2 linked regions of the Homo sapiens genome follow. The protein of the gene in region 2 interacts with the protein of the main gene of each other region in a pairwise test. Each region holds a gene or a part of one and is shown on either strand. Other genes may lie near its edges.

Region 1 (2,490 bases), on a different chromosome or scaffold from region 2:
ATATACATATATTAGCATATCATAGATAATGCATCTTTTATAAACAAAAATTTTCTGAATTTTTAGACAGGGGGATGTGGCCTAAGAAGCATCTGAACAATGGAGCATGATATTTCATAGATTTCAAATGTAAGGTGCATGGGTGCCATAGATAAACTGTAATAAAGCAAAAATATGTCATGCACTTATGCAAAAGAGAATCATCGGACTCCACCAAAACTCCCAGGTTATTGCAGTTCCCAAACTCTCCCTGACCTGGTGAACCCTTCAAGGTTAAATACACGTGGCAGATGGGGCTAAGGACCAGTATCATCTCCTGGCTGAATGCGTGAGCCCTTTGCTCACCTTTGTCTTTGTCCAGGCTCAGCCATGCTCATGTCTCCCTCCTTCTCCTCTCAGCCCTGACCCCACTATCCCTCACTCCCATTCATCTGTGCCTGTCACATTCTCTTCTTCACCTCCAGCTGGCCCTTGATTTCAAGACATTGACAGAATCAGAGATTGAGTGAAGAAATTATGAAGACTAGAAAAAGAGGATTAGCACAAGGTAATGAGGCATTTTTCAGGAGCTGAGATGAGCTTTCTGGAGAGTCAAAGTCTCTACCCACAGTTTTTCTGGATTATTCCCTGAGCACATGTTGGATATGCATTGGGTGACATAGTCTGTATTAGTACACACAGCCCTGAGGTTCCTGGGCACCTGCTTTACAGGTTTCTATTGTTCAACAAACCCTTGAAGTTTGTTGTTATATACAGATTGTTATCTCCCTTTATAAACAACAATCAAACTGCTCCTCGTTTTATAAACCAGCCGAGACTTCCTGCTCCCCAGTGGAAGGCGTGTTTGTTGAAGTCACTCCATCCACTGTCTCCCTGTAGAAAACTGGACATTGTTTGCAGAAGCGCTTGGTGATGTGCTTTCGGAAGAACACCGAGAGATACCTTCTGAACTTCTCCCCAACGAAGGCATAGATGATGGGATTGATGCAGCAGTGAGTCATCCCAAGAGTCTCTGTCACCTGCGTGGCTTGGTCCAGTTGACTGGTGCTTTCACAGTTACTCAGGCCGAAGAATTCCTGGAAGGTGTTCAGGAGAATGACAATATTATAGGGAGTCCAGAAGAGAAAGTAAACAATCATGATGGTGAAGATGACTCTCACTGCCCTATGCCTCTTCTTCTCGTTTCGACACCGAAGCAGGGTTTTCAGGATTCCCGAGTAGCAGATGACCATGATGAGCAGCGGCAGGACCAGCCCCAAAATGTTCCTCATTATTGTGTGGAAATTATTCCATCCTCGTGGAAAATAAGGGCCACAGACATAAACAGAATCTTCTTTCTGGCATTTAGTAAAGATGATTCCTGGGACAGAAGCAAACACAGCCACCAACCAGGTGATCACACTTGTCACCACCCCAAAGGTGACCGTCCTGGCTTTTAAAGCAAACACAGCATGGACAATAGCCAGGTATCTATCGATTGTCAGGAGGATGATGAAGAAGATTCCGCCAAAATAACCGATGTGATACAGCCCTGTGAATAATTTGCACATTGCATTCCCAAAGACCCACTCATTTGCAGCAGAGTGAGCCCACAATGGGAGAGTAATAAGAAAAAGCAGATCAGAGATGGCCAGGTTGAGCAGGTAAATGTCAGTCAAGCACTTCAGCTTTTTGCAGTTTATTAAGATGAGGACGACCAGCATGTTGCCCACAAAACCAAAGATGAACACCAGCGAGTAGAGCGGAGGCAGGAGTTGGGCCCCAATTTGCTTCACGTCAAATTTATGACAGGGAGCACCGTAATCATAATCAAAAAAGGTGGTGACTTCTTCACCGCTCTCGTTGGTATTTCTGATAAACCGAGAACGAGATGTGGACAGCATGTTGTGGATGTACTGGGGAAATGCGTCCTTGTTCAATCCACTTTCTCTGTTCTGTAAACAAAGAACAAAATGATGACCACACAACACAAACACCGCAATCCATGATCTTCCAAATAGTCTGGCACCACATAAGCAACTTCCCAGTCTTTGCCCTCTCCCTTGCAGCCATCTCCCTGAAAGCATGTGTGCCAGTTCCTGATTTGCCTTTCATTCCTAGTGGCAGACATCAATGATTTACCCAACAGCCATTTTCCGACACCCTTTATCTTCCCCAGCAAACCAGATTCTCATTTTCAGGCTAAAAGCGCTGGGCGTTTGTTTTCTCTGGCTCCTTTGCAGGTGGTGCATAGGTCTGTGACTCATTGCTGGACCATAATATGAAAAGGGAGTCTGCTGGGGGCTTCTGAGAAAGCTCTTCTTCCCTGATAAGACAGACACAAGAGAACCCTCCACCTGCCCCTCCTGCTCTGGCAGCATGCCTAGTGAGGGCATGGTGCCATGAATGGAAGACCTAGAGAACCATGAGAAGCCAGGCAGAATCCTATTATCACTGAGTCCTAAACCCACCCTTGAACTATTCACCTTCTGCCTTCTTTTTTTTTTTTTT
Region 2 (3,825 bases):
AAAAAAAAAGGCTGGCCGCGGTGGCTCACACCTATAATCCCAGCACTTTGGGAGGCTGAGGCACGCAGATCACCTGAGGTCAGGAGTTCGAGACCAGCCTGGCCAACATGGTGAAACCCCATCTCTACTAAAAATACAAAAATTAGCCAGGCGTGGTGGCGCATGCCTGTAATTCCAGCTACTTGGGAGGCTGAGGCAAAAGAATTACTTGAACCCAGGAGGCAGAGGTTGCAGTAAGCTGAGGTCGCATCATTGTACTCCAGGCCGGGCAACAAGAGCGAAACTCCATCTCAAAAAAATATATATATACTACTCCTCATACTCCTCAATCCAGAAACACACCTCAGACTATAATCTAATTTCACCTACAGGAGAAAATGCTCTGCAGAGCAAGCCAGAGGCCTGGACTGGTTAGTGGCCTCCTCTCCAAAGCCAGCCCCTTATGGCCATAGGTCTCCCATGAGTTTGGTCAAATGAGTCAGTTCTGCCAGATCACCTCCCGGTACTCCAGGCAAATGGAAAGTTTAGATCTGTAAAGTTGGAATGTAATGACCTCACAGTCCTGCTAGCCTAGGAGACCCCGCCAGGAGACCCAGCAGGAGGTCACCTGACCAAAGAGGGCTGGTAAGAAAGTCCCCGTTGGATGCATAATAAAAACGAGTGATAGAGCCCATGCTGAGGACACAGCCCCGGCCTCCCAACTCGCCCAGTGATCTCGCCAGGACTCTGAACTACCTCCCAGGCAGAACGCTGCTCAAGAGCTTGTTCCTGCATGCTCTCCTGCTAGCAGAGAAAATGAAGGAAGCACAGACAGGAGGGGAAATGCAGAGCAAAAGGAAAAAATCAGACACAGCTCAACCACAAGTGAATAAACAAGTCATCTGCACCTGTCCCACAGGCAGGCCTTGGTAACTACAAGGCTGACTAATTTTAGAAACAGCATGAACCTAAAGAACCATCATTTAAGTGCTCAAAATGGAGCCCTTAAAAAAAATCCTTCTGTCTGCCTGTACTGAGCAGACACAAAATGGACAGTCTTGGGTTGACTCTATTCAACCAGCTGTCTGTTGGATGAGATCAAGACACACCACTGCAACCTACAAAAAAGCACCAGGCCGTTAAGTGCAGTCAAGACACGTGGCCACTCACGGCCACCCAGGTGGAAGAGTCTTAATTCAGACACAAATGTCTCCTGGCCGTCCTTAGCCAGGGAGCTGGGCTCTGCCCGCGGCCAGGTCTTGCCTGAGTCCCCCTATTCCGTGGGTCGGGGTGGGATGTGGAAAAGCAAACCTCTAGGCTTTCTTCCTCCAAATGTGTCAGTCACCATACATACCTGTACACAGAAGCTCCCCCTCCAGCAATTTTCCCTCAGAACAGTGAGGACAGTGGCTCATCCCTGCGACATTTAGATCTCTCATGTTACAGGGCATTCTTTCAATTATTTTGAAGACATTTCTGATGGGTGAAGAAAGCGCTCTAGGAACTGAGAGTGGGAATCTAATTTGTATTTTACACTACATTAGATGCAACAGTATATAGCATATGGAAATTAGTTAACTGAGTTTCTATCACTCTTAGTTGGCATCTGACCCTAAGAATTCACTTACATTGGTTGGGTGTGAAACAAACTGAATTAGTAGTTTACACTGCATTATATGAAACAGTATATAGACTGGGTGCAGTGGCTCACGCCTGTAATCCCAGCACTTTGGGAGGCTGAGGCAGTCGGATCACTTGAGGTCGGGAGTTCGAAACCAGCCCGACCAACATGGAGAAACCCCATCTCTACTAGAAATACAAAATTAGCCGGGCGTGGTGGCACATGCCTGTAATCCCAGCTACTCGGGAGGCTGAGGCAGGAGAATCACTTGAACCCACGAGGTGGAGCTTGCAGTGAGCCGAGATTGCGCCAGTACACTCCAGCCTGGGCGACAGAGTGAGACTCCATCTCAAAAAAAAAAAACAAAAACAAAAAAAACAGAAATAGTATACAGTAGGCCAGGCACTGTGGCTCAGGACTGTAATCTCAGCACTTTGGGAAGTCAAGGCAGGAGGATCACTTGAGACCAGGAGTTCAAAGCTGCAGTGAACTGAGTGCGCCACTGAACTCCACCTGGGCAACAAAGCAAGACTCTGCCTCAAAAAAAAAGAAAGAAATAGTATATAGAAGTTTATTAGGTTGGTACAAAAGTAATTGCAGTTTTTGCCTAAGTTCCTGTAACTCTAAGTCAACATCTGGCCCTGAGTTCACTCATGCTGGCTGGGACAGAAGACTTATTCTGGAAGCTTGGGAAAACAGGAGCTCACGTCATGATTGGGACTGCCATCTGCTTGGCCATGTATATATTTCTCTATGACTCAGACATCAGAGACCAGGCTGGAGTGCAGTGGCGTGATCTCGGCTCATTGCAACCTCCACCTCCCAGGTTCACGCAATTCTCATGCCTCAGCCTCCCAAGTAGCTGGGACTACAGGCGCCTGCCACCACACCCAGCTAGTTTTTTGTATTTTTAGTACAGATGGGGTTTCACCGTGTTAGCCAGGATGGTCTCGATCTCCCGACCTCGTGATCCGCCTACCTCGGCCTCCCAAAGTGCTGGGATTACAGGTGTGAGGCACTGTGCCCGGCCTTTTTTTTTTGTATTTTTAGAGACGGGGTTTCGCCATGTTTGCCATGGTCTCAAACTCCTGACCTCAAGTGATCCTTCTGCCTCAGCCTCCCAAAGTGCTAAGATTATAGGTGTGAGTGTCTGCTCCTGGCCAGAGAACACCTTTTGGAGGTTGCAAGGCCATCAGAGATGACTGGGTCCAAGTCTAAGCTGCCATTCATTTCTGTCTTAAATGTTTACTAAGCACCCATGGAAGACAGGTGCCCTGTGAAGTGCTGGAGATGACGGTGGGCGAGCAAGCAGTGGCACAGAGTGGGGAGCAGTCTCCGAGGAGAGAAGTGGCTGCCCCGGGCACCCCAGCTGCCTGGAGATGACAGAGCCAAGACAGGACCTCAGCTGTCCTGACTCTCTCCTTCCACATCACTGTCAGCCCTGTTTCTTTTCTCACACATTCTCCAGAAATGGTTTTCAAAATACACTTGAGTGGGATCTCACACTCCCAATAAAGTGCTTCACACAGTGTAGCTCACACAGTGCAGTTCCTTCACATGCGTTCCATTTACATAGATTTCATGGTACCCAGGACAAAAAGCTGAAGTGGCAGTGCCCGGTCCCCTGCTTTCCCTGGGGAGGGAAATGGGACACAGAACGTGCTGTTTCCTCAGGCCCCGCTGGGCCTCTAGCAGGGGGAGTGCCTCTGAGCTAATAGGCAATTCAAGGACTTTAGAGGACAGTTTGACTTATGAGGTCTTTGCTCTGCTAGTTGACTTTAGAACCTAACCCACTGAATGTGTACTGAAGAATTCAACACAGCATGCAAATCAGCACCCCCAACACTCAGGCAATGACGGAGCACATGAAGACCACGGTCCCTGCGTCTTGGCTCTTAGGAAGATGAGACGGCTGAAATGCAGGCATGGTGTATCATTTTATTCAACCAATAAGTATGGACCACACACTATGCGTGAGGCATTTCCTAGGCACTGAAGATGGCAGATCAACGTCTGTCTTAATGGCAGGCAGCTTCAGTGGGGGGCTGAGTAGAGGGCATAAAATACAGAAATAAAACATCGGGCCTGGCACAGAACAAAGCGTGGCATGGAAGAAGGAAGAACAAGGAAGTGGTTGCCACAGGGCTGCAGTTGTCACCAGGGATAGCTCCACTGAGCAGGGAACACTCCGTGTTGGAGGATGGGTGAGCCGGGTCCTCTGGCCA

What was found.
Region 1: the proteins of CDIP1 (region 2) and CCR2 interact in a two-hybrid assay, tested with the Homo sapiens proteins (one large-scale study listed by BioGRID and IntAct).

What each region holds. Positions count from the first base shown.
Region 1 is NC_000003.12:46,356,921-46,359,410, reverse strand, and holds part of CCR2 (C-C chemokine receptor type 2), read right to left. Parts: intron 1,935-2,490; 5' UTR 1,884-1,934; coding exon 801-1,883; 3' UTR 1-800. UniProt on the Homo sapiens protein: Key functional receptor for CCL2 but can also bind CCL7, and CCL12. Also transduces signaling mediated by CCL13.
Region 2 is NC_000016.10:4,528,698-4,532,522, forward strand, and holds part of CDIP1 (cell death-inducing p53-target protein 1), read right to left. Parts: intron 1-3,825. UniProt on the Homo sapiens protein: Acts as an important p53/TP53-apoptotic effector. Regulates TNF-alpha-mediated apoptosis in a p53/TP53-dependent manner.